Homo sapiens: one gene and its partners. The protein of the gene in region 1 interacts with the protein of each later gene in a pairwise test. Each region holds a gene or a part of one and is shown in the gene's direction. Other genes may lie near its edges.

Region 1 (7,939 bases):
CTTCTGGTACTGCACTCAGCACCCCCCTGCCCCACAACCACCCCACACTTCTCCATTCTAGGTGGAGAGCAGAAATCATCTTCTTCTGTTAAACAGGTTATGGTCCCTTTCCCTTCTGCCTCAGGGCCCTCGCATATGCTGTTCTCCCTGTCTGCAACTCTTCACCCTACTCCCATTTCACCTACTTCCACCTTCCGGGCTCAGCTCCAGCACCACTCATCACTTCCTCTCTCCCGCCCAGATTAGGTCAGGTGGATCCCGCTCCACCTTCATAAAGCTCCTTTACTTCTTCATGGCTCTAATCATGGTGCCAAGAAAATTGTATCTAAATTATAAATTATGGCTGGGTGCAGTGGCTCATGCCTGTAATCCTAGCCCTTTGGGAGGTCAAGACAGGAGAATCCCTTGAGCTCAGAAGTTCAAGACCAACTTGGGCAACATTGTGAGAGCTCGTCTCTATTTTATTTTTTAAAATTAATTATTTTTTATTTATTTTTGAGATGGAGTCTCACTCTCACCCAGGATGGAGTGCAGTGGCATGATCTCAGCTCACTGTAACCTCCACCTCCTGGGCTCAAGCGATTCTCCTGCCTCAGCCTCCCGAGTAGCTGGGATTACAGGCATGTGCCACCACGCCTGGCTAATGTATTTTTAGTGGAGATAGAGTTTCACCATGTTGGCCAGGCTGGTCTAGAACTCCTGACCTCAGGTGATCTGCCTACCTCGATCTCCCAAAGTGCTGGGATTAAAGACATGCGTAACTGCGCCTGGCCTATTTATTTTTGAGACAGAGTCCTGCTCTGTCGCTCGGGCTGGAGTGCAGTGGCACGATCTTGGGTCACTTCAACCTCTGCCTCCAGGGTTCAAGCGATTCTCATGCCCCAGCTCCCTGAGTAGCTGGAATTACTAGCACGTGCCTCGGCCTCCCAAAGTGCTAGGATTACAGGCGTGATACATCGCCCAAAATTTTTGTATTTTTAATAACTACAGGGTTTCACCATGTTGGCCAGGCTATCATCTCTATTTTTAAAAATTAAACTATAAATTATGATTACTAGAACTATCTATGAGAACATCTTATTACTGTTTCTCCCACTGGACTGCGACCTCTGTGAGGGCAGGGACTGGGTGCTATACCCCTAGCCGCAGCACAGGTCAGGTACCCAAAACGTGTGTGTTGAATTAATAAAATACGAGTAAATACAGAACCAGGGCAAAAATCTAGGGCCCCTGATTTCCCAACTACAGCTTCACCTTCCATAAGCCAGGCATGGAGGTCTCGGGACCCCCATTCTCAGAGAAATCAACCAACTCACCCTTAGCTTAGATAGGGAAACAAAAGGAACTAACCATAAGGGTAAATGCTTAAGAGTTTTAATCAGTCCGCCATAAAAAGCTCCTCCCCATTCTCCATCTTGGGGGCTCAGATCTTGGCTTCGGGTTGAGATGAGGGACAGGGATATCAGGCTGGGAGAGGAGAGTAAATATGAATGCGGCTGAGGGACCAGAGCTGGGATCGGAAGAAAACACAGGTGAAAAGGAGCAGAAAGAGACTGCTAACCCCAGTCCCTGAGCCAAGTCAGAAATCCAAGTCCTTTTATAGCATCCAGGAGCCAAATGTAGTGAAATCCACACATCATATCGTTCTTATCTGCAAAGTGCTGTCATCTGGCGCTGAAAGCACCAGGACTGGGCTGAATTGGGCCCGAAGTGCCTGAAGGGTGTCACTTTAGGTCTGGAGAGTCAAGAGGAGACGCCACCTTGGCCTACAGAGTTGAGAGCGAGCATCATCTTGGCCTGGAGGGGTGTGCAGGAAATGCCACCTTGGTCCAGGGAGTTGGGAGGAAGATCCCCTGCCTTGGGTTAAGAGGGGCCATCATTTTGGGCCTGCAGAAGGAAGGAAACCATGGGGAGTCCCCAGACCCCAGGATCAGGGAGGTGTAAGTAGGATGGAGACAGTAAAAGAAAGCAAAACCTATCCCACGACACTGCTGGACTTGGGAAACAGAAATCAGGCTGAGAGGGCGGGGCTAAGCTCAAAGGGGAGGAGGCAGGAGGCAGATGGGAGAACAAAAAGTAGAACCAGCACACGGAACCAGGGCCAAGCTTGGGCAGCAGAACAAGGACCCAGCTGGCTAGGCGCAGTGGCCCACGCCTGTAATCCCAGCATTTTAGGAGGTGAGGCGGGTGGATCACCTGAGGCCAGGAGTTCGAGACCAGCCTGGCCAACAAGGTGAAACCTCATCTCTACTAAAAATATAAAAAGTAGCCAGGCGTGGTGGTGCATGCCTGTAATCCTAGCTACTCGGGAGGCTGAGGCAGGAGAATCGCTTGAACTCGGGAGGTGGAGGTGGCAGTGAGCCGAGATCACGCCACTGTACTCCAGCCTGGGAGACACAGTGAGACCCTGTCTCTAAAAACAAAACAAGGACCCAGCCTAGGGTGAAGGCAGTTCTGGAAGTGGAGCTAGGATGGGAGGCGTAGCCAACTGAGTGAAGGAAGACGGCAGGGAAGCTGTGCCACATCCTGGGTTCTTGTGGGAAGAACGGGAACAAGCTCCCCACCATAAGCAGAAACCAAACTCAGAAAGGCAGAGCAGAGCCCAGTGTGTGGTGGCTCACACCTGTAACCCCAGCACTTTGGGACGCCACAGTGGGAGGATTGCTTGAGCCCGGGAGTTTGAGACAAGCCTGGGCAACATAGTGAGACCTTCTCCCCTCTTCAAACCGACAGAAAAAAATTAACCGGGCAGCTGGACGTGGTGGTGCAGGTCTGCAGTCCCAGCTACTCTTGAAGGCTGAGCTGGGAGGATCACTTGAGCCCAGGAGGTCGAGGTTGCAGTGAGCAGTAATCCCGCCACTGCACTCTAGCCTGGGTGACAGATAAACACCCTGTCTCCAAAAAAAAAAAAAAAAAAAAAAAATTGGTGAGCCCCCAGGGTGGAAACAGATTAAGGAGCAACTATGTAACAAAGGCTGGAGCCAAGCCCCAGGGGAAGGCTCAGAACCAGGCGGCAGGGTCAGGATCGGGAGAGGAACCAGATCTAAGGATAGTGGGGCCCTGGTCTCCGCAGTAGGGGTTGAACTATATCCAATATAAAGCATTATCCAAGGGGACCGGATTAGCCCCCATGGGTGACACCAAGATGGGAGCGGGGGTGGGGGGTGATAAGAGACACAGGAGACAGAGTCAGGTCCCAGAGGCAGCAAGGCCTACCCCCAAATTGCAGTCAGGTTGGGAAGTAGAATCATGGCTAGGCCCGCGGCCCCGGGTCTTTCTCAGGCTCGGTCCCTGGCACGCCGCGGATGTCCGGCAGCAGGCGGCAGCCAGCCACGATGTCCAGACGCTCGGCCAGCGCACAAAGGTCCCCGCGCGCCAGGCGCACGCTGTGGGCCGCCGCCAGCCCCGCCGCCTGGGCTGCCGCCAGCCTACTAGCCAGGGCGGCCACGTCGCGGCCTGCACGGCGGTAGACACCGCTCACGGCGGCCGCCACGTCGTGGTCCAGCCGCGCCTGGCTCTCCGCCAGCCGAAGTTGCAGGAGCGAGCGCGCGGGGGCGGGCGCCGGGGCCTCCTCCGTGCCCCAGGCCTCCTCCGCCGATTCCCGCTGCACCACGAGTGGAGGCAGGTCCCTCGGCGCGGCCGTCGGTTCCGGCTCCGGCTCCGGCTCCGAGTCGGTCTCCGCGGCTTCCCCAGCCACCCGCAGCCCCGTGGGGCGGCCGCGCGTCGGGCCCGAAGGACCCAGGTACAGCTCCTCCTCCTCCGACGAGGACGCAGAGCGCTCGGAATCCGTCTCGGTCGCCTCCCCCGGCACCACCGTCTCCGGCCTCCGCAGGGGCCTCCGCCGACGACCCTGGGACGCCATGGCACCGAACTAGGGGAGAAGAGCGAAGGGACTGCACGTGAGACCGGCGCCGCGGTGGGTAAAAGGCGCAGGTCCTGGATTCCCAGCCCCTTCGCTGATTCTCTTAACGACTTGGTGTCAGCTGCTCCCCGTCTGGGCCTCAGTTTCCTCTTCTGTAAACTGGGTGATGATGGGGGTTACTGGACCCCAGGCTCTTCAGCGTACAGATGGGGAAACTGAAGACCAGCTCGAACAAGGATCTGGGGCCCGAGTTCCCGGAGTCCCAAGCCGAGGTCTTTACGAATTTGCCTCCTAGTAGAGGCCACACCCTCCACCTGGTCCACCATGCCAATCTCAGACCCGGAAGCACACGGGCCCGTGAGCTGCTCGGGACCAGCGCCAGAGTCGCAGAAAGGATGACAGTCCGACTGGACTCTGCTGGGGGCACTCATGGGATGGGAGAAGCGCTAACGCCAAAGACCGTACCCGGCAGCTGACGCTCGGAGCTTGCGAGATCCGCTTCCTAACCCGAGTGCTGCGTTCTCACCGTGGCAGCTGAAGGGCTGTGATTTCAACCAATAGGGGAGCGGGTTGGGCGGGCATTAGCGGCCAAGTCACGTGGATTCGCCCGGCTACCAATCAGGAAGCAAGTTCTCAGCATCAGCTTTGAGTGAGCGTGCAGAAGAGTCACATGAATGGAGGAACCGCCAATAGAGAAACAGCTGGGCCGGCTCTTCCAGGTTGTGCGACGAGGAAAGTCTGGAGTGGACCAATAGGGATTTTAAAAGCCGAGTATGTCACGTGTAACCAGTAATTTGGCCAATAGGAATGCTCGAGAACCCGGAAATAGGGAAGGGACGGCAGTAAGAGCAGAAGATGTTGCCACATGTGGCCAGAGAAGGCGTAGGCCCGCCCCCTAGTGTCCCAGGCTCACGCGCACACCACCTGAGTCCGGGGCGGGGAGGCGGGGCTAGTCTAAAACACCAATGGAAGCCGGAGTAGGAGGGCTCGCGCCATGACGCAAGAGGCGTGGCTTACCAAGCCTGGCCAATGAGAGCTGGAAGCGCTGGGCGCATCTTTAGGCGTGCGAGGAGGGGGCATGGCGGATACTGTGTTGTTTGAGTTTCTTCACACGGAGATGGTGGCTGAGCTGTGGGCTCACGACCCCGACCCCGGCCCGGGGGTGAGCGCCGGGCTCCGTGGGGAGGAAGCGGGGGCCACCAAGGTAACGCCTCTGGGAGAGCGGAGGGCGCGTCAGGCGTCCGGGTTCGAACCCGGCCCAGCCCCGGCCTTGCAGGGCAACGTCTGGCCCTGGCTTCCTCCTTTGGAAAGTGGCGTTCGCGACGGTGCCGGCTCGGGGTTATTGCTAAATTGAGCGCGATGATTCAGGGTAAAGCACTTAGCTCAAGGCCTGAGTAAGCGGCTAGTAATCATAATAATGCTGTTATTGGGCGTGTGCTGAGGACTCGCCTCCCCCACTTACTAGGTGTGCGACCCAATGACTTAATCTTTGTGTGTCCTAGTTTTCTCTTTTGTAAAATGAGTATCATAACGTACCTAAGCCTCAGCGTGGGACATTTATTTATTCGACACCCACTTATTGAGCGTCTGTTGTATTCCAGGCACCGTTCTAAGACAGAATCCCTTCCTTGTGAAGCTTACATTTCACTAGGGGAGTCAAATAATAAAATGAAATATGCCGGCTGGGCGCTGTAGCTCCCAGCACTTTGGGAGGCCGAGGCCGTCGGATCACCTGAGGTCAGGAGTTCAAGACCAGCCTGGCCATGGTGAAACCCCGTGTCTACAAAAATTAGCCGAGCATGATGGCGGGTACCTGTAATCCCAGCTACTCGGGAGGCTGAGACAGGAGAATGGCTTGAACCTGGGAGGCGGAGGTTGCAGTGAGCCAAGATTGTGCCATTGCACTCCAGCCTAGGCGACAGAGCGAGACTTGTCTCAGGAAAAAAAAAAAAGAGATAATGGGGTTTTGCCATGTTGCCTAGGCTGGTCTTGAACCCCTAGGCTCAAGTGATTCTCCCGCCTGGGCCTCCCAAAGTGCTAGGATTACAGGCGTGAACTACCGTGACTGGCCCGGGACTGTGTGTGTGTGTGTGTGTGTGTGTGTGCGCGCACGCGCATCCTGCTCGGTCGCCCAGGCTGGCTGGAGTGCAGTGATGCAGTCATGGCTCACTGCTGCCTCGACCTCCTGGGCTCAAGCGATCATCCCACTTCTCAGCCTCCCAAGTAGCTGGGACCACAAGCGCTGCTGGCGCCACCACACCTGGCTAATTTTTTGTATTATTATTATTTTTTTTAGTAGAGACGGGTTTTCACTGTTAGCCAGGATGGTCTCCATCTTCTGACCTCGTGATCTGCCCATCTTGGCCTCCCAAAGTGCTAGGATTACAGGCGTGAGCCACTGCACCCGGCCAATTTTTTTTTTTTTTTAGTAGATACGGGGTTTCACCATTTTGGCCAGGCTGGTGTCGAACTCCTGACCTTGTGATCCACCCGCCTCGGCCTCCCAAAGTGCTGGGATTACAGGCGTGAGCCACCGCACCTGGCCATGTAAGACATTTTTATTGGCTCTGGTTTCCTTCCAGGGTTAGAAGCCCCAGGGAGGATGTTGCTTGTTACCATCTCGATATACAGATACAAACCTGTCATAAGTTTAAAACATCATAAATCAAAAATGCATTTAGCCAGATGTGGCGACTTGCACCTGTAATCCCAGGTACTCAGGAAGCAGAGGTGGGAGGATCACTTGAGGCCCACCGTTCAAGACTAGCCTGGGCAACATAGCAAGACCTCACCTCTAAAAGAAATTTTTATTTTTATTTATTTATTTATTTTTGAGACAGAGTCTTGCTCTGTCGCCCAGGCTGGAGTGCAGTGGCGCAATCTTGGCTCACTGCAAGCTCCGCCTCCTGGGTTCACGCAATTCTCCCGCCGCAGCCTCCTGAGTAGTTGGGACTACAGGTGCCTGCCACCACACCCGGCTAATTTTGTTTTTTTTTTTTGTATTTTTAGTAGAGATGGGGTTTCACCATGTTAGCCAGGATGGTTTTGATCTGACCTCGTGATCTGCCCGCCTCGGGCTTCCAAAGTGCTGGGATTACAGGTGTGAGCCACTGTGCCTGGCCAAGAAATTTTTAAAATTAGCTGGGCGTGATGACACATGCCTATACTACCAAGAACTCGGGAGGCTGAGGTGGGAGGATTGCCTGGGCCCAGGAGTTCAAGGCTGCAGTGAGCTATGATCATGCCACTGCACTCCAGCCTGGGTGATAGAGTGAGACCCTGTCTCTAAAAAAACATGGGGATTACTCAGTGAACCATCAAAAATTTTTGGACTCTTGGAGCTTTGTCATCATTGGAGGAGACAGACAAGTAAATGAGTAAAGTGTCTGGTACATTGTGTAACTGCTATGAGGAAGATACAGCATGGCCCAGGGAGTATGCATCAGCCTGGGGGTGGGTAATAATGTCCCAACACTCCATATCCTTCCTGGCTTTCAAACGAGAAACCCTGGAGTCCCAACACCTGCCTTGTCTCCCTCACCTGCAGCCCTCCCCCAGGCTCTGCCCAGTCAGTCTAAATACCTTTCTCACGTGGCCCCTCCTCTGCCCTGGTCCAGTGCTTTCCGCTCTCCTGTGAAATGAGCCTGCTCCCTTCTCCCAGCCCATTCCACCTGTCACATCTTCACCATGCTAACAACTATTAATCCTTCAGATCTTAGCGTAACAATCCCTTCCTCAGGGATGCCTTCCCTGAGCCCCCAGTCAAATTTGGATCTCCTTTATACATTCTCCTGGTCTCCCTCTCGCACTTTTTTCTTGGTAGGCTTCATCATACTCAATAAGGATGTATTTGATTTTTTTTTTTTTTTTGAGACGGAGTCTCGCTCTGTCGCCCAGGCTGGAGTGCAGTGGCGCGATCTCGGCTCACTGCAAGCTCCGCCTCCCGGGTTCATGCCATTCTCCTGCCTCAGCCTCCCGAGTAGCTGGAACCACAGGTGCCCGACACCACACCCGGCTAATTTTTTTTTTTTTTTTTGAGACAGAGTCTCGGTCTGTCCCCCAGGCTGGAGTGCAGTG
Region 2 (7,145 bases), 4.7 Mb from region 1:
ACAGGGGCATGCCACTGCACCCGGCTGATTTTTGTATTTTTAGTGGACTCAGGGTCTCCCTGTGTTGCCCAGGATAGTTTCAAACTCCTGGGCTTGAGTGATACTCCTGTCTCAGCCTCCCAAAGTGCCAGGATTACAGGCATGAGCCACCGCCACTGGCCAGGGCAGGGGATTCCTGTCTGCTTTGTCCCTTGCTTGGGTGCCCAGCACCTGGCCACACAATAGGTAATCAATAAGGATTTATCGAATGAATGAAGCAAAGGATATAGATGAGCACCTGCATATGGAAAGTCCATTCTTGGCTGTGACACCACCCAGGCTGGACACACAGTAGGCACCCTGGGAAGGTCTTTCTGGGGGTCGAATTTTGGGGGAAGGGAAAGGTGTCTGCTTTATCCAGCCCCTCTTGTCTTTACTTCATAGGAGACCAGCCACTAACTGGGGCGTACACAGTGACCCTGGATGGACGAGGGCCCTCAAGGGTCATCTCCAAACATGACCTGGGCCATTTCATGCTGCGCTGCCTCACCACCGATGAGTACGACGGACACAGCACCTACCCCTCCCACCAGTACCAGTAGCACTCTGTCCCCATCTGGGAGGGTGGCATTCTGGGACATGAGGAGCAAAGGAAGGGGGCAATAAATGTTGAGCCAAGAGCTTCAAATTACTCTAGAGAAACCGACTGTGTGACTCTTCCTCTCTCTGCCTCTGTCTGAGTATTTTGGTGTGTCTGCCTGCCTCTGTGTAAGATTTGCTTGTTATGCATTCATTCATTTGTTCAGTAACAGTTTATTTTTATTTTTTTATTTTTTTGAGACCGAGTCTTGCTCTGTCGCCCAGGCTGGAGTGCAGTGGCGCAATCTGGCTCACTGCAAGCTCCACCTCCCAGGTTCACACCATTCTCCTGCCTCAGCCTCCCCAGTAGCTGGGACTACAGGCGCCCACTACCACACCCAGCTAATTTTTTTGTATTTTTAGTAGAGACAGGGTTTCACCGTGTTAGCCAGGATGGTCTTGATCTCCTGACCTCATGATCCGCCTGCCTCGCCTCCCAAAGTGCTGGGATTACAGGCGTGAGCCACTGCGCCCCGCCCAGTAACAGTTTATTGAGTCTGGCCAGGCATGGTGGCTCATGCTTGGAATCCCAGCACATTGGGAGGCCGAGGCGGGTAGATCACTTGAGGTCAGGAGTTCAAGACCAGCCTGGCGAACATGGTGAAACCCTGTCTCTACTAAAAATACAAAAATTACCCAGGCGTGGTGATGCACACTTGTAATCCCAGCTACTTAGGAGGCTGAGGCAGGAGAATCGCTTGAACCTGGGAGGTGGAGGTTGCAGTGATCCGAGATTGTGCCACTGCACTCCAGCCTGGGTGACAGAGCGAGACTCCATCTCAATAATAATAATAATAATAACTTAGCTGGGCATGGTGGTGTGCACCTATAGTCCCAGATACTCAGGAAGCTGAGGTGGGAGGATGGCTTGAAGCCAGGAGTCCAGGTTGGGCAACATAGTGAGACCCCATCTCTACAAAATAATTTTTAAAAACTTAGCTGGGCATGGTGGTGTGTACCTGTAGTCCCAGATACTCAGGAGGCTGAGGCGGGAGAATGGCTTGAGGCCAGGAGGTCAAGGCCTGGCCACTGCACTCCAGCCTGTAGGACAGATCCAGACCCTGTCTCTGAAAATAAAAAAAAGTTTGTGCTTTATTTTGAGGATTTATGCAAGGAGTGGAGCACCAGAGAAGTAAGGCAGGGGGGACAGTTGGGTGTTTTATGAAGCTTCCTTTGGCTACTCTGTGAAGGTGGAAAGGAAGGGTCCAGGAATGGAGGCTGATAGCCCAGAGGGAGTTGGAGGAGGAACTGTAAGGAGGGGAGGAGAGAGTGGGTGTGAGGAATGCCTGGGAGCCTGCGTGGACAGTTGGTGAGGGGTGGAGGGGAGGCATCAGAAAGAAGCATACGGCTGTAACCCGGGGACAGAGTTACACTAGTGCTTCAGGAGGGAGGCTGAGGCTGCAGTGAGCCAAGGTGCGCCACTGCACTCCAGCATCCACGACGGAGTGGGACCCCGTCTCAAAAACAAAAACCCAAATGCAGTAGGGCTTTCCTGAGTTGTGGACCCTATAGGAGGCGCAGGTTTTGGAGGAGGAAGGGGAAGAATTGCTCCTTCCTAATTATGTCCTTTTTTGGAACCTACTGTCCCTTTCTTTTTTTCCCAGGGACACCTTCCCTAGGCCTGGGTGAGCTAAGACACTTCTCTCTCCCTACCTCCAACCCACACCACCCACCTACCTATTCCCCTCCCATTTATCCTGCAAACATCAGGATGACTTGGTTGACAAACTCCAACCGGCAAGAACTGGTCTGAGGAGGCTTAAACCTCCCTTCCCAGAGGTGGCCTGGAGAAAACTGCCTCCTCCCCTTAGGGAAACTCGTTGTAGGGGCGGAGCATTACGGGTGTGGGCTTTCAGGACACTAGCAGTGTCTTCTTTCTGCCTTATTTTTCTGTCACATTCCTGAGCATTTAGCAAACTTTCACTGGGACCTGCTACGTGTCCAGCCCTGTGCTAGGTGATCCTGCAGACCAAGAGGTGGTTGACAGAGATATCCTTGGTACCTGCCCTCGGCGGGGCGTTCCTCAGTCCATATAGTAACTGACAGTCCAGGACTGGGATGGCGGCACAGGAGGCCATGGAATCCTAGAATGGATCCTAACCCAACCTGGACTGCCAGGGAGGGCTTCGGAGAGGAGGAAACCTTTGAAATGTGTTCTGAGAAGCAGCCTGGGAATTGAGGGTATATTTTGAGGATGAGGAAACAAGTTTAAATATCCAGAGGCGAGAAGATTGCTTGAGGCCAGGAGTTCAAAACCAACCTGGGCAACACAAGAAAACCCCCCTCCCCCCTCCCCCATCTCTCTGTCACCCAGGCTGGAGTGCAGTGGCACGATCTCGCCTTCACTGCAACCTCAACCTCCCAGGTTCAAGCGATTCTCCTGCCTCAGCCTCCCAAGTGGCTGAGATTACAAGCGTGCGCCACCACGCCCAGCTAATTTTTGTATTTTTAGTAGAGACGGGGTTTCACCATTGTTGGCCAGGCTGGTCTCAAACTCCTGACCTCAAGTGATCTGCCCGCCTCCGCCTCCCAAAGTGCTGGGATTACAGGCGTGCGCCACTGCGCCCGGCAAAAAATAATATTAATAATAAAGATCCAGAGGCCTTTTATTGTCATGTTTGCGAACTTATTATGTACCTGGCATTGTTGTAGACACTGGGGTAAAGCAGGGAAGAAAACAAACAGAGAAAATCCTTTCGTTTTCCTGATGGGGTGAATGGGAGCTTGAAGCCATTTTAGAAAAACTGGAAGTGACTCAATGGGGCAGGATCGGAGAGAACCAGGAGAACGCATCAAGCAAGGTCGTGAGGGGCTTTGTGGCAAAAGGAAGGAGTTTGAAGTTTGTATTCGGGGTGGGTAGGAAGCCATGAACAGTAGCAGAGGAGTCATCTTGATGGAGCGGGGAAGGAAAGAGGGTGTCAGAAGACCCAGGTGGGACCACCAGAGGACGTGCTGAGAAAACCTGAGGATTAAGAAGGGGCCGCGCGGTAACGTATAGGGGGCGGGAGGGGCAGCAAGGGGGCGAGGCTACGATCGCCTAGGCAACGCGGGCCGCGCCACTCTATTGGCTGGTCTTCCGCTACGTCATCCCCCGCGCCCCAGCGTCCTCCCTCGGAACCCCGGGGGCGCGGCCTCCTCCGGTTGCTCGGCCCCGCCCGCCTGCACAGCGACTTGGGGAGGGGCATGCCAGCCCCTCTGGCTCCACGGTGGAGTCCAGGCCTACCATAAAGGAACCGCAGGGAGCAATGGTGACGATCTTGGAGCGAGGACTGTAGCTGAGTGGAAGGAAGCGGTTCTGTTGGACCGGCCGCCCTCCACCCCGGAGTCGCTGCCCCGCCCCCTGCCAGTTGCACTTCTTTAAATGGCCCGGGGCGCTAGGGAGGGGTGGGCGGATCCGGCGTCTCGGGGCACGGGCGGATGGCTCCGCCCAGCCAATCGACGCCCCGCGGCGGGCGGGACTCCAGCCAATCGCGGCTCGCGGCTCGGCTCCGGGGCGGGGCTGGTGGGCCAGAGGCCAGACGGAGAGGCCCCGCCGAGGTGAGCGAGGCTCCAACCGGTCACTGGTGGGTCCTGGCACTGGCGGGTCGCAACGCTGTGGGCGTTCCAGGAGGTGGTCGTGGCGAACCTGGCAGCTGCGGTGAGGAGTGGTCGCCTGGCTTGGGAATTTACCTTAGGCTGGGGGAGAGAGAAGCGCGCCCCGGGGACTTGCGGAGGCGGGGTCTGGGTGGGACCGGGGGAGGGGGCCTCAGATTCAGGGTGATGATAGGGAGGGTCTGGGGACCTGAGACTGAGTTCAAGACCCAGGAGGGGAGGCGAGGTTGTTGGGGCAGTATTTTCAAGTGGAGGGAGTTTGAAGCTGGGACGTTGGGCTTTTGGAGAAGCGAGAGAACAGAGGGGAGGAACTTTTGAGACAGGGAACCTGGAGATTCGATTCCACTTGGGTCTTCCGGACGGGTTGAATTCGGGGCTTTATCGTGTTCTGGAAAAGGTGTGAGAGGTACGGAGCTGAGATTCTGAGTATTTGGAGAAGCGAGAGAACTAGGGTCAAGGATTCTTGGGACTCCAAGACGCACTGGCGGGGGAAGGAGGTTGCCGGGAAGAGTTCAATGTTCGGGTCTTGGAGCCGGACAGCGAGTTTGGAGGTGAAGTCCAGGGGCGTTTGAAAGTCAGGAGACTAGGAGAAGTGGGAGGAAGTATCAGAATTAGGATACGTAGTCTCCCGAACTAGATCGGAGCATTGTCGTCTTTGAGCGATGTGTTCGGATCTGGGTCTCTGGATCCAAGGGCAGTTTGGAAGGAGAATCGCGGACTTTCAAGGAACAGAGGGACCGGGAGAAAGCAAATTTAGAGCCGGAGTCTGGGGTGGGGGAGGGGTGTTCCGGGCCTGGAGCTCAGACTCGCGGCCCCGGAGGCAATGGAGGGCGGGGCTCGGCAGGCGCCGGCAGCTGGACGTCCAGGTTCCCTTCCCCCACCCGCCTGTGCCCCTGTGCGCATGCCCTGAGGGAGAGCGGGGTGAGGGGGGTGGCTCGTCCCCTGGACGGGCGGAGCCCTCTGGGGATTGTAGTGCGTGCTCGACGTCAATTCGTGTACCTGGCGGCTGTTGGCCCCCGTTTCCCAGAAGCCCCTGGGCCAAATTGGGGCGTTCCTGGATGCTCTGTAAGGACCCATGGGGGGGCGGGGCCTTACAGTGTCGCGGTCTGATTGAGTGGGACCTCCGAGGGGGCGGGGCTTGGTCTGAGCTGAGTTCTAGCAAGTTTTCCTATGGGGCGCGCTTTGGGGGAATCTGAAAGCGTGGGCAGAGGGAATGAGACAGGCCCCTTTCCTACTCTTGGGAGCGCTCCCAGTCGGTTAAGGAAGAGGACATAGAAATATCCCGACTGTTGAAGAAGAATCTCAACATAGGTTCCCCAACAGGGCTCCAGGAGATTTCGAATATAGTAGGCACTCAGTAAATCTGTTGAGCGAATAACTGGCAATTAACTCTTGATCGAGGCCGGGTGTGGTGGTAATCCCAGCTACTCAGGAAGCTGAGGCGGGAGGATCGCTTGAGCCCAGGACTTCGAGACTGCAGTGAGCTGTGATAGCGCTGCTGCACTCAGCCCTGGGCGACAGAGCGAGACCCTGTCTCTAACAAAAAACAAACACAACTCTTGTTCATTAAGCACTTCCGGTGTGGTGGGCCCTATAGATACGTGGCATCTCCTTGACAGAGGTGGTGAGAAGTATTTTTTTACAGTCCCTATTTTACAGATGAGGAAACTGAGGCCCTGAGAATTGACTCATTCAGATCACTTCCCATGATCACGCAGCTGAGCAGTTTCCAATACAGAATTCAGATTTGGGGTTCCCTACTTCCAATCCAGGTCTCTGTGCTCCACACTTGTCTTTCGTGCTCCATGTTTGAAGAAATTAATATTGTGGAAGAACAGTTTTAAGGCTTAGAGGAACTTGAGTTAGGATCCGTACTTGGCAGATGAGGAAATTGATTCTCATGGATGTAAATTCACTGTTTGAGGCCACAACAGGCAAGTAAGTGAGATTTAAATCTAGCTGTACGTAACGCCAGATCTTATTTTCTTAATCGTATATGTACTCACCTTCTTAAACTTGTAGGATTCAGACAGCCTTCATTTTATACATCAGTAAACTGAGATTCCGATGATTAAAAATCACTAACAACTCAATAGGCCTGAGAAAGTGGGATATGAGCCAGCACTACGGTGTCTGGTGTCTGACCTTCCCCTATGCGCCTCTTCTCTCTACAGGGCATCATGGTGGGAGGCTTGAAGAGGAAACACTCTGATTTGGAAGAGGAGGAGGAGAGGTGGGAGTGGAGTCCAGCAGGCCTTCAGAGCTACCAGCAAGCCCTGCTCCGCATCTCCCTAGACAAAGTCCAGCGCAGCCTGGGCCCCCGAGCACCCAGCCTCCGCAGGCATGTCCTCATCCATAACACCCTCCAACAGCTGCAGGCTGCACTTCGCCTGGCTCCCGCCCCTGCCCTGCCCCCCGAGCCCCTCTTCCTGGGCGAGGAGGATTTCTCCCTGTCAGCCACCATTGGCTCTATCCTCAGGGAGCTGGACACCTCCATGGATGGGACTGAGCCCCCTCAGAATCCAGTGACTCCCCTTGGCCTCCAGAATGAAGTGCCACCCCAGCCTGATCCAGTCTTCTTAGAAGCTCTGAGCTCCCGGTACTTGGGGGACTCTGGCCTGGATGACTTCTTTCTGGACATTGACACATCTGCGGTAGAAAAGGAGCCTGCACGGGCCCCACCAGAGCCTCCTCACAACCTCTTCTGTGCCCCAGGTTCTTGGGAGTGGAATGAACTGGATCACATCATGGAAATCATTCTGGGGTCCTAAAACTGTGATAGAGGGGATCGATCCTTCCTCATGTCATCTTCGGTGGCCTGGATCCCTGAATGCAACTCTGGGTGTGTGTTTTTGTGGGGGCTCGAAGCAGTGACTATGGCCTCCTTTGTTCCCATTTCAGGGTTCCACAAACTGTCTTGCATGTGTGTGTGTGTC
Region 3 (7,804 bases), on another chromosome or scaffold:
GGGCTGGGAGGGGGCTGGGAGGAGGCTGGGAGGGGGCTGTGGGGCCAGGGGCACCACTCAGCATTTGGGAGGTGCCCCGCCAAGGGGGTTCAGTCCTGGTCATTTCTGTCCTTCATTCTCAATTAAAACCAGTTCCAAATGAACCACTGCTCAGTGGTAAAACTCCTTCTGGACGTTCCCCTTGGATTGGAACTCCATTTGTTAAATTGCTCAGAGTGGGATTTTCATTCCGGCTGGATTTCCCCAAATATCTTACCGTGACCCAGTTTTCTTTTCCTTCTCTGGAGGTTATTCCACCCTCCCCGCTTTCTGTTGCTGGAGCGGGCTGCCCTTGGCCGGCACAGAGAGGCATCCATGACGGCCGTGCCTCTGCTGTCGCCCACCCCGCTGCACCCCGGAGTCCCTGCACCCCCAGCCACAGACAGGGTCACCTGCTCCCATGCACATGTGGTTCCTTATTCCTTCCCACCCCCACCCCCCAGCCCAGGTGGCAGCCCCTCAGGGAAGGAAAGAGAAACTTCTTTCCCCAGAAGCCTCGCAGACCCCTGGGTGGGGCTTCTCAGAATGTTACAGAGGGGCCCCGGGGCCAGGCTGCGCTTTCTGACGACAGGCTGCTCCTGTCTGGTCAGTCCTGGTGCAGGTCGCTGGGTTGTGGAGTCTGCCTCTGGGGGCTCAGTTCCAGAGCAGGGATAGCGCTGTCCCGTCGCCGGTGTGTACTTCTGCGCGGGAACAGACTTGCGCAGCACGCTGGCCCAGGGACGGATTGAGCGGAGCTGAGCCCTCAAAGAACTTTGGGTATCTCCTGAGAGCCAAGGCATTTGCTGTGGTTTGATGTGTCCCCTCCAAAATTCAGGAGTTGCCTAAGTGACAGTATCAAGAGGTGACTAGGCCGAGGGCTCCTTCCTCGCTCGTACGATTAAGAGCCTTATAAAAGAGGCTGCACCTCCGCCTTCTGCAGTGTGAGGACACGGCACAAAGGCCCTCCCCAGACACCAGTACCAATGCCTGGATCTCGGGCTTCGCAGCCTGCAGAGCTGTGAAAAATCAGGCCGTTCTTTGTAAATCACCCAGTCTCAGGTGCTTTGTTAGGGCAGCAGGGACGGCCCAAGGGCACCTGAAGCAGTTAGAGCTCCACACTGTCCCTGCGGTGCGAAAACAGCAGAACCCCCACAACCTCCCCTCCCCCTCCCCCCCGCCTCCCCCCCCCCCACCCGCCCAGCTTCCTGAGCTGTCAATCGATGTGGTGCTGAAATCCAGTCACTCAGGGAGGAAGGGCAGAGCAAAGGTGGGAGGTTTGCAAGGAAATTTGGGGTGGCAGAAAAGAGGGTGTACCCCGGAGGCCTGAGAGCTGAGTTTGGAGGTGTGGGCCACGCTGGGCCACAGGAAGTGGCAGGTCTGTCACCACCTCACACACAGGGTGAAGGACAGCGAGGGGGAGTGCTGGCAAGACAGGTCTGTGGGTGGGATGGGAGGCTGGATTTGGAGGGAGAAGATGCAGGAAGCTCTGCCAATGAGCTGCCAGAGAACGGAGAGGGCGTGACAGGGCTAAGAAAAGGACGTCTGCACACTGAGGCTCGCTCATGGATGAGTGCTGGGCACAAGAAGGAGGAAGGCAGGGGTGGGGGGCAGCCGGCCCTGCACGCTGGGGAGGCGGGTCGGGTGGTTTGTGCCAGCGCAGGGCATCTGAGTCTGGCATGCACAGGGATGGACTGCGGTGGCTTGACCCCAGGAGTCTGGTCTGGATTTCCGTGGTTCCCAAGATGTGACACTATCCTGGCCCTTGGGACAAAATCCAGCACTCTGGCCTGGCTCCTGCAGACCCACCACCCAGATCAGACCCTTAGGGGAAACCAGGTTAATTCTGGGGCAGCATCTGGAGGAGGAAACATGGAGGAACAGACCTCAGCCCACGGGGTCAGCCGCTAGCACGGGCCTGGGGGCAGGCGCAGGCTGCAGCCCCAGGAAAGTGCAGCCTCTGCACCCCGGAGCAGGGGGGCTCTCAAAGCAGTCCCCGCCACGCCCTGCAGGTGGCGCTCAGGCCCCATGGACTCCGGGGTCTCACCATCAACAAGTGCCCGGGCAGAGTCAGGATGTGGCCCTTCTCACCTTAGTTTTAGGTCAAGTGATGTGATAGGGAGGGGGAACGAGAGGGCAGGCGCCATCGGTGAAGTACCTGGGCTGCCGAGGGGGCGACCAACCCCACACAGGAGGGGCACTGGCTGCTGGTGCTCTACGCAGGCCCCTCTCGGAGACTCAGGCCCTTTTGTGAAGAGCCTCCGCCCTGCCCCGTGTCCAGGAAAGCCACCTGCGAGGACCCTGCCCCATGGAGTGTCCCCTCGTGGTGCTGACGTCCTTGTCTTTGGTGTGTGCTGTATACCCACAGCAAGGTCTGCAGGCTTCACCAGATTCACATTAAATACCTTAGTGAGAGTGTTTTAAAACGGGGACCTTGAGGCAGGGTGTCCCCAAGTCCCAGCCCTGCCAGCTTTGGGGGAAAGGCTCTGGGCCCCATTCCATCTCAGAGAGGCCAAGACCCACATGTTGCAGTCTGCACACAGTAAGCCCCAGGCTGCAGGATTTGACCGAGTCTTTATCGTGGCTTCCGTTACATCTTATTCTAACTCAGGTTTACGGACACAATGCTGGAAAACCAATTCCTGCTCTACCCACGCCTCAACTTGTTAAGAAAAAACAGGATCTAACACCGAGGAATGTCACATCTTCGCCATTCCCACTTCCTTTCTGCCCTAGGCATTCGATATGTGCCACCAGGGGCCATCAGGACTAGGGCTCTGCACCCATGGCAGCAGACAGGTGTGAAGCTCAGAGTCCCTCCTAACAGCCTCCCTCCAGCGTCTTCTTGGCCTGCAAGATAAAGTGTTTTGTCTGAATGGCTTGCTTCCAAGTTAGATACGCCTCAAAAGCAAGCTACCACACCACACGTTGTGTTCTACCAAATACCTTACAGAGAACTTGGGTGCTGGCATATGGTGGGGGCTCGACTGGTTGGAGCCTGGGGCCCCATGGGCAGGTTCTCTGGGTCACTTGTCCACGGGACAAGGGCCTCATGACACTATCACAGAACTCACTGCTGCCCCCTCCTCTGAGCCCCCACGAGATGCCACATTTGGTCTCAAGCTCTCATAGAGGGAAAGCAGGAGCCCCCCCCCTTTTTTTTTTTTTGAGATGCAGTCTCACTTTGTTGCCTAGGCTGGAGTACAGCAGCGTGATCTCGGCTCACTGCAACCTCCACCTCCCAGGTTCAAGTGATCTTCCCACCTCAGCCTCCCAAGTAACTGGGACTACACCACCATGCCTGGCTAATTTTTTTTTTCTTTTTTTTTGTAGAGACGGGGTCTCCATATGTTGCCCAGGCTGGTCTCAAACTTCTAGGCCTAAGCAATCCACCCACCTCAGCCTCCCAAAGCGGTAGGATTACAGGCACGCGCCACCACACCCAGCAAAAAGTGCAACTTCTGATGAGTTGTCCACCCCTGGATCCAAGGCTGCTGGGGCCGGGTAGGGATGAAGGCCGTGGAACTCTTGTTCAAATACCCTTTCTCTGGTCCAAATCTCCGGATTAACAGCTCCCAGTAAACAGAGTCAGCACTGGCATCAAGGCCTACCCAGATACACTGAGGTGGTACCCGGTGCGGCTGACACTTAGGGAACCAGCCTCAGAATGACTTAAAGCCCCACGGGCAAGAAGCCCTATCGTGCCAGTTGTGAGGGTGGCTGGGGGTTCCCCGCAGGACACGTGCTGAAGGAATCCACCACTGCAGGTGCACAGGGGCTGCAAGTGCCAGGGAGGTGAAGACCCGGAAGGTGCTGGGCACTTTCCGGGAGTCCTGTGTTGGGTCAATCCTGGCATGACACCCCCCGGCGGCAGTGCTAACACGAAAGCTTACGCGTTTTACAAGGCGCTTTTTTGCACACATCTCCCATCCTTTCTGAGGTTGGTGCCAGTCCCGCTTTACAAACATGCAGGGACAAGCCCAGGACGGCCGAGGTTTCGCGGGCTCGTCGATGGCTCGGTGATTTTGTCAGCCGGCGTCTAAAGCACGCGGCAGGCGCTCAAACCTTGAACCAACGGGAAAGCAAAGGAAAGCCGGGGCCCGCTGGCTCTTGGAGGGGAAGGGCTGGGAAGGGGGGAAGGGGCCCGCGCCCACCTACCGCAGCGGCGAAGCAGCTCCGCAGGGCCTCGAACTCCCGCGCGCAGAAGTCCTTACTCAGGCGGCCGCCCGGGGCCGTGGAGGCCTGCACGCACCTGCCGTACGCCGCGGCCTGCGGAAAGGACGGGCGTGGGTCGTGGGGTCCCCTGACCCCGTCACCGTCCTCCCTCCCAGCCACCTCCCCGCGCGGCTCCTCCTGCCCCGCAGCACTGGCCCGCCCGCGGCTCCTCACCTCGGCCCCGCAGGCGGCCAGCCGCTCGGGGAAGGCGCGGAGGCGGCTTCGCACGCGGCCCCACACCGCTCCGTTAGCCGACATGAGCGGCTATTCCCAGCCCCCTGGAGGCCGCCATCTTAGGTCCGTCCTCTTCCGGTGTCAAACAGCTTGATAGGTCGGCGCTTCCGCCCATAACCTTTCCTGAACTTCTTAATTGGCCAGGCTTTGCCTGGCCTCGAGCCCCCGCAATTGGCTCTTGTCCTAGTCTGTCTGTGCTCTGGGACTTCGGATTGGCCTAGGCTCCAATTGTTTACGAAGCCAACCTCAGGGCCCGCCCTACCGTGAGGGATTGGCCGGCGGACCCAGACCCGCGCAGTGATTGGAGGGCCCGGGCCTGGCGGAAGCGGGGCAGACCGGGAGGGGACCTGGATCATGGCTGCCGCGCCGCCGCTACGGGACCGCCTGAGCTTTCTACACCGGGTGAGTGAGGGCGGTCCGCCCGGGCCCCGGTCCCACGGCTCCTCTCGAGCGCCGCATTCCCCGGACTCGCCCCGGGCCGGAGCCATTGACCTTGCGTCTCCGCGCCGGGTAGCTGCTCCTGGCCCCTTCGCCCGCGCCGACGCCCCTGAGCTGCCCGCCCGCCGCGCCGTCCCGGGGCCTTCCAAGCCGGGCCTTCCAAGCCGGACCCGCCGAGCGCAAGGGCGATGGGCACAGCCAGACCCTGGGGGAACGAACAGGCCTCGGCCAGCATTCAGTGGCCTCCGACGGGAGGGAAGGAGCGGCGGACCCGGTGGACGTGGAGCCGCTGTGTCCGTGCTGCTGGCGCCCAGGTGGGCTGGCAGCCCGCCGTCCTCCCTGACGGTGGCGTTTCAGAGGACTCCGGTCCTGGAGAGGCACCCCTGGGTTGCAGAGAACACAGACGTCTCGAAGGGACAGAGAAGGACGCACCATTGTAAGCCCCTCTTAGTAAACCCTCTGAGAAGTAGAGGCCGGGGCGAGTTCCCAGGTGTCGTCCTGAGCAAACTGCCCTCTTTTGTCAGCCCTGAGCTTTCCTGGGCTGGACCTCAGAGGGGGCTGGGTGGTCCCAGGGCGCGACCTTGGGCTGCCAGAAGCCACGCTAGGGTTGGTCAAGGCTCTCAGTGCAAGGTTTCGACATAGTCGTTCTGTGCTGCGTTCTGCAGTTGTCAGCTGTCACCTGCAAACCTCAGCAGCTCCCCTTAGGGCGTGGTGGGCAAACAGTGTCAGTGATGCGTGTCCACAGCCTCGGGAAACACTTCAGGTCCACGTTTTCGTATGTTGTCACTAGATCTCGGCCCTTCCGACCGAAAGGCTTCGGCACCTCACGCGGTGGGTCCCATGCTTGTCCTGTTAAATACTCTTGAACTCTATTCTGTCCTGATACTGAATAATGCAAGAATGGGTGGTTCCAGTTTTCATCCCTATAAACCGTACATCTTTGTGCCAGTAAGTAAGCATGAAACAAATAAGTACGTCTGCGCTAAGCGAACGTAAAACACACGACATCAGTCGGTTCTCGGGGAGCGATGGAGCTAGTCACGCTGAGCGGCTGTCACTCTGCCATTCCGGCCTCTGGGGAGGTGGAACGATTCATAGTCCCCTGTGTGGAAAAGGGGCTTGCCTGGGCCTTGTTTGGCTTTGCTAGTCAGTAGGTAGGTACAGGAGAGGTACCTTCAAATAGCCTTACATGCTGGTAAGTGCAGGGAGGCTGGGGGCTGTGTCCCTTCTTAACCCAAGTGGCGCAGCTCCTCCGTGGAGAACCACCATTGATTTGCCTCTTCTCCGAGGCTGTTCATCCCTGACTGTTGAGAGAGGACCCTGCTGCAGCCTCCCTGTGGCCAGTAGCACAGTTCTCATCCCTTCCCAGTCCTCTCTCCGGCCATGTCAACAGTGAGAGGTGGGTCGTTTCCATCCCCTTTGGGGGGCTGCGGATTCACCCCTGTGGGAAATGGCACCTCATCATGGTAGGGGCTCTTGTTCCCTTTCAGCTCCCGATTCTCCTGAAGGGGACGTCCGATGATGATGTCCCGTGTCCGGGCTACCTGTTTGAAGAGATTGCTAGTATCCTTCCTTGATGTCCCCGTGTAGTGGAAAGAGCGGATGGCAGGGTCCCAGAGTGGTGCAAAGGGTTCCTGGGGATTCTGCTGTCCCTAGGGGGATGCACGGCTCCTTTATTATTGTAACCAGGCATGGGTGGGGTCTGAAGGCTGCAATACTGATGACACAGGGGACCCTAGAAGCCCAGGTGCTCCTGATGGCAGAGCCTCCAGTAGGCGCCTCCAGGGAGCGTGAACTGAGAGGCCCCATGGCCTGGTCTCCCTGCGGCCTGGCGCAGCCCTCATCATCTCGCCCTTCCCTAACCCGAGCGTGCCGCAGAAATCTCCCACGAGTCTCCGGGCAGCAGCCAGTGCCTGCTGGAGTACCTCCTGAGCCGCCTGCACAGCAGCTCCGGCCACGGGAAGCTCAAGGTGAGCCCCTGGGTGGTCAAGGGTCAGGCCTGAGGCCCGGCCCACGGTGGTGAGGATGGAGGAGCAGACGAGCGGCCCAGGGTGGCAGGCAGCTCTGTGCCCTTGGGGTGCCCCCGGGCCCTGCCCTGGGTGTCCCGTGTCCGGCCTGCCCAGCACTGCTGACCGCCCCACTCCCCAGGTGCTGAAGATCCTGCTCTATCTGTGCAGCCACGGCTCCTCCTTCTTCCTGCTCATCCTCAAACGCAACTCTGCCTTCATCCAGGAAGCTGCAGGTACAGGGGCCGCGCACGCGCTCAGGAAGAGCCAGGGCTTTGGAGAATGGGGGAGGGTGGCGGATCCTCCAGGTTTGAGAAGGAAGACTTCAGCCAGAGCCCTCACCTGGGCCGGGTCCCGATCAAAGCCCCGCCTTGCTGATCCTGGCCCATCTCTGGCCTCTCCACCTGCTGCCCACCCTCACCCCAGCTGGCCGGCTCGGCCTCCCCTGACGCGCCCTGCCCCCTCCCTCCGCTGGGTCCTCCGTGCCTCCTATGCGTCCCTGGGCCTTTGGCTGCGTCTGTCCCTGCGCTTGCTGCCCCGGGTGCCAGTTTGTTTCTCTGTGTGCCCCACGGGTCTTCCCCCTCCATCCCAGTGCCCACACATAGCAGACTCAGTGCCTGTTCACACATCCTTCCCAGGCTGTGGGTTCCCCTTCTGGGGCTGCTCCTCGGAGCCCAAGACAGAGTGAGGCCATGGGAGGGCGGAGCTGGGAGGCAGGAGAGGCGGGGCCCCGGCCAGTCGGTCTGTCCAGGCAGAAGATGGGTCTGGGGGAGCTGTCCCCGCAGGCTTGGGGGCAGTCCCATGTGCCTCTGCCTAATGAGGACTTGTGGGGGCTTGGCCTGAGATCTTCCATGGGGTGGAGGGAGGCCTGGCTCCAGGTGGTCACTGGGCGCACC
Region 4 (6,139 bases), on another chromosome or scaffold:
TGGGAGTGGAGTGAAGCAATGGCCTTTGCAGTTTACAAAGCTTGCTGTCATGTTCCTGCCCCCTCCCTTCTCCTTCCTCCCACCTCCCTTCTCTCTTCCCTTTCTTCTTCCTCTCCCATTTCTTTTCTCCCTTCACCTAAACATAACATCTCATTCCATCCTTACGTCTGTTTGTTTGTTTTGAGACAGTCTCCCTCTGTAGCCCAGGCTGGAGTGCAGTGGCACAATCTCGGCTCACTGCAACCTCTGCCTCCCAGGTCCTGGTTCAAGCAATTCTCCTGCCTCAGCCTCCCATGTAGCTGGAATTACAGGCACGTGCCACCATGCCCAGCTAATTTTTGTATTTTTAGTTGAGACGGGGTTTCACCATGTTGGCCAGGTTGATCTTGAACTCCTGACCTCGTGATCCACCTGCCTCAGCCTCCCAAAGTACTGGGATTACAGGCATGAGCTGTTGCGCCCGGCAAATTTATTTATTTATTTATTTATTTATTTATTTATTTATTTATTTTTTATTTTATTTTTTTTTGAGATGGAGTCTTGCTCTTTTGCCCAGGCTTGAGTGCAGTGGCACGATCTTGGCTCACTGCAACCTCAGCCTCCCGGGTTCAGGCAGTTCTCCCTGCCTCAGCCTCCCGAGTAGCTGGGATTACAGGTGCCCACCACAACGCCCAGCTAATTTTTTTTTTTTGAGAGAGAGTTTCACTGTTGTTGCCCGTGCTGGAGTGCAATGGCACGATCTTGGCTCACCGCAACCTCCACCTTTCAGGTTCAAATGATTCTGCCTCAGCCTCCAGAGTAGCCGGGATTACAGGCACGTACCACCATGCCTGACTAATTTGTATTTTTAGTAGAGGTGGGAGTTTCTCCATTTTGGTCAGGCTGGTCTCGAACTCCCGACCTCAGGTGATCTGCCCACCTCAGCCTCCTAAAGTGCTGGGATTACAGGCTTGAGCCACCACGCCCAGCATGCCCAGCTAATTTTTGTAATTTTTAGTAGAGACGGGGTTTCGCCATGTTGGCCAGGCCAGTTTTGAACGCCTGACCTAAGGTGATTCAGCCGCCTTGGCCTCCCAAAGTGCTGGGATTACAGGCATGAGCCACCATGCCTGGCCTTCCTTATGTCAACATTATTAAGTGGATATTATTATTCTTTGTATTTGAAGGTGGAAACCTGAGGCTCTGGCCATGGTTGTGTAGCTCGTAAGATTCTATGAGGAGTCTGTAATCATCCTACTCGGTATTCCTGAGTGTGGGAAAGAAGCTAGGCTGGGGTTAGGGGGTTGTAGAATTAGCAGGGTGGCTGATCAAACCATCTAAGGCAAGATGGCGTGGGTGGTTAAAGCATAGCCTTGAGCCAGAGAGATTGGGCTCAACCAAATCCAGCTTTATTACTTACTAACTGTAAGACCTTGGGCAAGTTGCTTAATCTTGCTAAGCCTCAGTGTCCTCACTTATAACAGGGGAGCAGTAATACCCACCTCATGGGATTGTTGTGAGGATCAATGAGGTGTACCTGGTGCAGAGCAGTCGCTCACCACCTGGAAGCTATTGTAATTAGCCTTCCCAGGTCTCTGGGCTGTGGCTGTGCACTTGCATTTCATTCTTCAGCGCCGTGCTTTCCAGAACAGTCCATTCTGGCTGGGCTTTTCTTTTTTAGGATGACCTTAAAGGTGCTGAAAGGATGCCACCAGTAAATGTTTATTGAAAACCTACTATGTGCTCGGCATAGCCCAGGAACTAGTGACCTATGCCTGATGGAAAGGAGATTTGGAGTGGGAGATGTTTGGTGGCTATGGCTTATCCTCACCAGGTGCCATGTGAAGAGGACAGATAATGGAAGTGGGGAGGGAAAGGGCCCTTCATTACCAAGAACTGAGATGAGTTCAGTCCTACTTGGTGGTTGGTAGATGACTGACATGGTCTCTTAGGGTCCCTTCTGAGCCCAGGAAATGGTAGTGGGGGCCCTGGCAAGCATGGATCCCTCCTACTCTGTGGCTGAGGGTTGATGGGGCTTCTGTCCATCTCTTTTCCCAGGTGACAGCGGCATGGACATATGCCCCAGGCTTTCCTGCTGGGGTCCATCCATGAGCCTGCAGGTGCCCTCATGGAGCCCCAGCCCTGCCCTGGAAGCTTGGCTGAGAGCTTCCTGGAGGAGGAGCTTCGGCTCAATGCTGAGCTGAGCCAGCTGCAGTTTTCGGAGCCTGTGGGCATCATCTACAATCCCGTGGAGTATGCATGGGAGCCACATCGCAACTACGTGACTCGCTACTGCCAGGGCCCCAAGGAAGTACTCTTCCTGGGCATGAACCCTGGACCTTTTGGCATGGCCCAGACTGGGGTAAAGGGTTTGGCTTCCCCAGTGGGTGGAGTGGGGGGTTCTAGGTGGATGCTTGGCTGGGTGTGCTGTGGAGAAGGAGCATGTGCATGGCTGTAGACATGTGTAGGTCCTCCCGCCCCATTCTGTCTCAACACATATACTGGCTCCTGTGGTCCGAGGCCCTCTCCCAGCGTCTCTGCCCGTAATTAACCAAGCACATTAATGGTAGTTTCGTTTTCCCTGTGAGCTGGCCAGTAATTGCCTCTGAGAGCCCTTCCTTCCGCCAGCCCCATCCTTACTTTACTGGATCTCCCCTGTCCCTGAAGTGTGGTTGGGGTCAGAAGAGGGACTAGGACTGCTGGGTCCTCAGAAGAGACTGGTTGACAGGGGTGGGTATGTAAGAGATGCAGGGCGTTCTGGGAACCTGGGTTCTGTTTCCTAGCTAAGGCGAGGTTCAAAACAGAGCCTGGCTCCAGTGCCTGCCCGCTTTTCTTTCAGGGCTCAGGATGAGTGACTGCCCCCAGTGGGGGTGCTTGGCAGGTGGGGGAGGGGAAGAGGCTTCAGGGCAGAAGGCTCAATCGCTTTTATTGACCCCAACTGGGTGATGAAAGGTGATCAATGATGATCGATGGAAATGACAGCCTGAGGCTTGGGGCTGAGAGGGCATCCAGACAGCAGTGGTCAGCCCATCCTTGTGCCTCCTTTAACCCTGGCTGCCTTTCTGTCTCAGACCATCTGTCTGTCCCCAGTACTAACCATCAAACCCTGTGTAGGGCTAGATATCTCAATGTAGTCCCTGTACTTAGTCCCAAAGGCTAGTTGGGCTAGAGGGAAACAAATTCTTCTGGACCACGGTTCACAATGAAGAACTGGAAAAAGACAGACAGGCTCAAACCATAGGGCCAAGAATCCTTGTCTCAGGCCTTTGGGTGAAGGTAGGGGTAGGGGGTGCAGGCTGGATCCTCATGTAAGGTATAAAGAAGTCAGTTGGTCCAGAGCCCGGGCCTCAGGTCTCCAGTTTGAAGCCTTTCATGTCTCTCTCCTTCCTCACAGGTGCCCTTTGGGGAAGTAAGCATGGTCCGGGACTGGTTGGGCATTGTGGGGCCTGTGCTGACCCCTCCCCAAGAGCATCCTAAACGACCAGTGCTGGGACTGGAGTGCCCACAGTCAGAAGTGAGTGGTGCCCGATTCTGGGGCTTTTTCCGGAACCTCTGTGGACAGCCTGAGGTCTTCTTCCATCACTGTTTTGTCCACAATCTATGCCCTCTGCTTTTCCTGGCTCCCAGCGGGCGCAACCTTACTCCTGCTGAGCTGCCTGCCAAGCAGCGAGAACAGCTTCTTGGGATCTGTGATGCAGCCCTCTGCCGGCAGGTGCAGCTGCTGGGGGTGCGGCTGGTGGTGGGAGTTGGGCGACTGGCAGAGCAGCGGGCACGACGGGCTCTGGCAGGCCTGATGCCAGAGGTCCAGGTGGAAGGGCTCCTGCATCCCTCTCCCCGTAACCCACAGGCCAACAAGGGCTGGGAGGCAGTGGCCAAGGAAAGATTGAATGAGCTGGGGCTGCTGCCACTGCTGTTGAAATGAGTGCCCTTGGGGCCTTGCATGGGACACATTCAAGACCTCGAAGTCATTCTTGGCCAAGCAGATGACAACACATCTCCTGGACTGGAGCAAAAGGTCCTTCTGTGCACCCTGGTCGCTGGGAAACGTATTCTTTGATCTGTTGAACTGTCTTCCAACCTGCCATGGCAGTTTTGACACTACTCCTGTTTGCCCTCCTGATTCCTGCTTTCTTTACCTTTTAACATTGCCCCTTTCAGGGGACCCCACTTTGTAGGGAATCTGCAGAAGGTGTGCTTTTGCACTTGCAGACTGCTCTACCTCAGTGTTTCCTTGGGAGACTTTATTCAGCTGAGAGTGCCCTAGACAGTAACTTCTAAGGTCACGTTTACTATTTCAGAGGAAATATCTTGCCAGGATACCTACCCATCCTTATAGAACAGTTACCTTTAGCTGACCCCTTTCCTCACAGGGACCAAGACAAAGCATGGGACATGAAATTAAGAGTGAACTTCTTATGGGAGGCTGCAGCTGGATCAGAGGAAAAATCCAGTGTGACAGAGTGCAAGTCAGAAGACCTGGCTTTTCATCCCAGCTTTGAAACTTGGAACTTTTTGATTGACAAATTAATAAACCTCTCTATGCCTCAGGCTCCTCATCTGTAAAACAGGGATGCCTACCTTATGGGGTTGGTGTGAGGATTAACTGAGATCACACTTGAAAGTGCCTTGCATGGGCTTGGCATGTGGGTGCTCATTACATAGTCTTCTTGTTTTCTTGCCTCTGGGTTGAGGATTCACAGCACTGCACTACAAGGGTAGCCCCTCTCCATTCTGGATACCTTGCTAGGAGAGAGTCTGGGCTTCCACCTGCGGCCAGGGTGAAGGGAAAATTCTTGCCATGTCAGAGATGGATCAATGACTATGAAAAAACTAGCCTGTGATTTTTTTTCACTCTAAGCATTAAGAGCTCCTAAAGCCTTTTGTCTTGTTACTTTTTTCCCCCTCTTGCATGCTAGAGGTGGAAGGTAGTCATTTAGATTTCCCCCCTCTTCCCTCTTCATTGTTGGCCAGGGGTTCTCTTGGGCAGCTGGGGGAAGGATGTAGTAGATCTCTCTTTTTTTTTTTTTTTTGAGATGGAGTCTCATGCTGTTGCCCAGGCTGGAGTGCAGTGGCATGGTCTCAGTTCACTGCAACATCTGCTTTCCCGGTTCAAGTGATTCTCCTGCCTCAGCCTCCTGTATAGCTGGAATTACAGGCATGTGCCACCACGCCTGGCTAATTTTTGTATTTTTATTAAAGACAGTGTTTCACCATGTTGGCCAGGCTGGTCTCAAACTCCTGACTTCAAGTAATCCACCTGTCTTGGCCTCCCAAAGTGCTGCTGCCTGGCTGGATGTAGCAGATCTCCAATTGCCTTACCAAACCTGCAGGGTCTCTGTTAAGTGTCTGTTAGGGGTCTTATATGATACTCTGGACACCGTGAGAAACAGGTGATGGGGCAGATGGGAACCTGGTATCCAACTCATTTTTTATGTCTGCTGAATGGTTGACTGGGTGCCCCTTTGGTAAGGGCTGGGAAAGTGAACCAAGTTGGGAGCAGAGCAGGTCTTGAGACCACCTTAATGAGGAACACATGGTCTACTTCCTATCTCCTGGGACACAGGTCATTTCCAGCTTCCAGAATTAGTAAGATTTTTCATATAAATCCTCCCCTACTTCATTGTATAATAAAGAATTTGGCCTTTGTCTTCAGTTCCTGAGAAGGAGACTCTAAATCCTTGGAATTTCCCAAGTAATAGGAGTATCTTTGTTTTTCGTGGCAGGTCCCTGAAACTACACCTGAATTTATGTTGAGATTTGACCTTAGGCTGCACCTAATTTTATATTGAATTTGATCTCAGACCACACCTGAGTTTGCTGTAAGATTTGACTGAGGATGGAGGCTGACCATGCCAGAATGACCAACCATATAGTTACAGGGCTGGGACTTTGAGCTGGATGATACCAGCTTGATCCCCAGGGAGGGGAGAGGGGCTAGAGATTGAGTTCAGCCACATGCCGATGATTTTAACCAATTATATCTATGGTAAAACTCTAGATATAAAAACTTCTGACACAGGTTTTGGTCAGCTTCCTGGCTGGTGAACACATGGATGTGCTGAGGGATGTGCATTGGTATCCTGTTTCTATGAGCAGAGGGCACACATCTGTGCCTGGGACACTCCTGGACCCTACCATATATTTGTCTTCATTTGGCTGG

What was found.
Region 2: the proteins of TRAPPC6A (region 1) and SERTAD3 interact in binary tests that used the Homo sapiens proteins (3 or more experiments, as listed by UniProt).
Region 3: the proteins of TRAPPC6A (region 1) and TEPSIN interact in binary tests that used the Homo sapiens proteins (3 or more experiments, as listed by UniProt).
Region 4: the proteins of TRAPPC6A (region 1) and SMUG1 interact in binary tests that used the Homo sapiens proteins (3 or more experiments, as listed by UniProt).

Annotation. Positions count from the first base shown.
Region 1 is NC_000019.10:45,175,220-45,183,158, reverse strand, and holds the start of TRAPPC6A (trafficking protein particle complex subunit 6A), read left to right. Parts: upstream 1-4,921; 5' UTR 4,922-4,940; coding exon 4,941-5,024; coding exon of another isoform or gene 5,025-5,066; intron 5,067-7,939. Other genes in the region: BLOC1S3 (biogenesis of lysosome-related organelles complex 1 subunit 3), read right to left, coding at 3,254-3,862. UniProt on the Homo sapiens protein: May play a role in vesicular transport during the biogenesis of melanosomes.
Region 2 is NC_000019.10:40,441,325-40,448,469, reverse strand, and holds the start of SERTAD3 (SERTA domain-containing protein 3), read left to right. Parts: upstream 1-4,134; 5' UTR 4,135-4,255; intron 4,256-4,392; exon of another isoform or gene 4,393-4,615; intron 4,616-5,854; exon of another isoform or gene 5,855-5,915; coding exon of another isoform or gene 5,916-5,981; exon of another isoform or gene 5,982-6,147; intron 6,148-6,383; coding exon of another isoform or gene 6,384-6,389; coding exon 6,390-6,980; 3' UTR 6,981-7,145. Other genes in the region: BLVRB (flavin reductase (NADPH)), read left to right, coding at 424-581.
Region 3 is NC_000017.11:81,236,048-81,243,851, reverse strand, and holds the start of TEPSIN (AP-4 complex accessory subunit tepsin), read left to right. Parts: upstream 1-4,796; 5' UTR 4,797-4,818; coding exon 4,819-4,866; coding exon of another isoform or gene 4,867-5,338; exon of another isoform or gene 5,339-5,692; coding exon of another isoform or gene 5,693-5,850; intron 5,851-6,191; exon of another isoform or gene 6,192-6,365; coding exon of another isoform or gene 6,366-6,392; coding exon 6,393-6,465; intron 6,466-6,774; coding exon of another isoform or gene 6,775-6,780; coding exon 6,781-6,872; intron 6,873-7,050; coding exon 7,051-7,144; intron 7,145-7,804. Other genes in the region: NDUFAF8 (NADH dehydrogenase [ubiquinone] 1 alpha subcomplex assembly factor 8), read right to left, coding at 2,699-2,865, 4,170-4,284, 4,405-4,488. UniProt on the Homo sapiens protein: Associates with the adapter-like complex 4 (AP-4) and may therefore play a role in vesicular trafficking of proteins at the trans-Golgi network.
Region 4 is NC_000012.12:54,179,858-54,185,996, reverse strand, and holds the end of SMUG1 (single-strand selective monofunctional uracil DNA glycosylase), read left to right. Parts: intron 1-2,037; 5' UTR 2,038-2,056; coding exon 2,057-2,341; intron 2,342-3,373; coding exon 3,374-3,901; 3' UTR 3,902-4,349; coding exon of another isoform or gene 4,350-4,478; 3' UTR 4,479-5,631; downstream 5,632-6,139.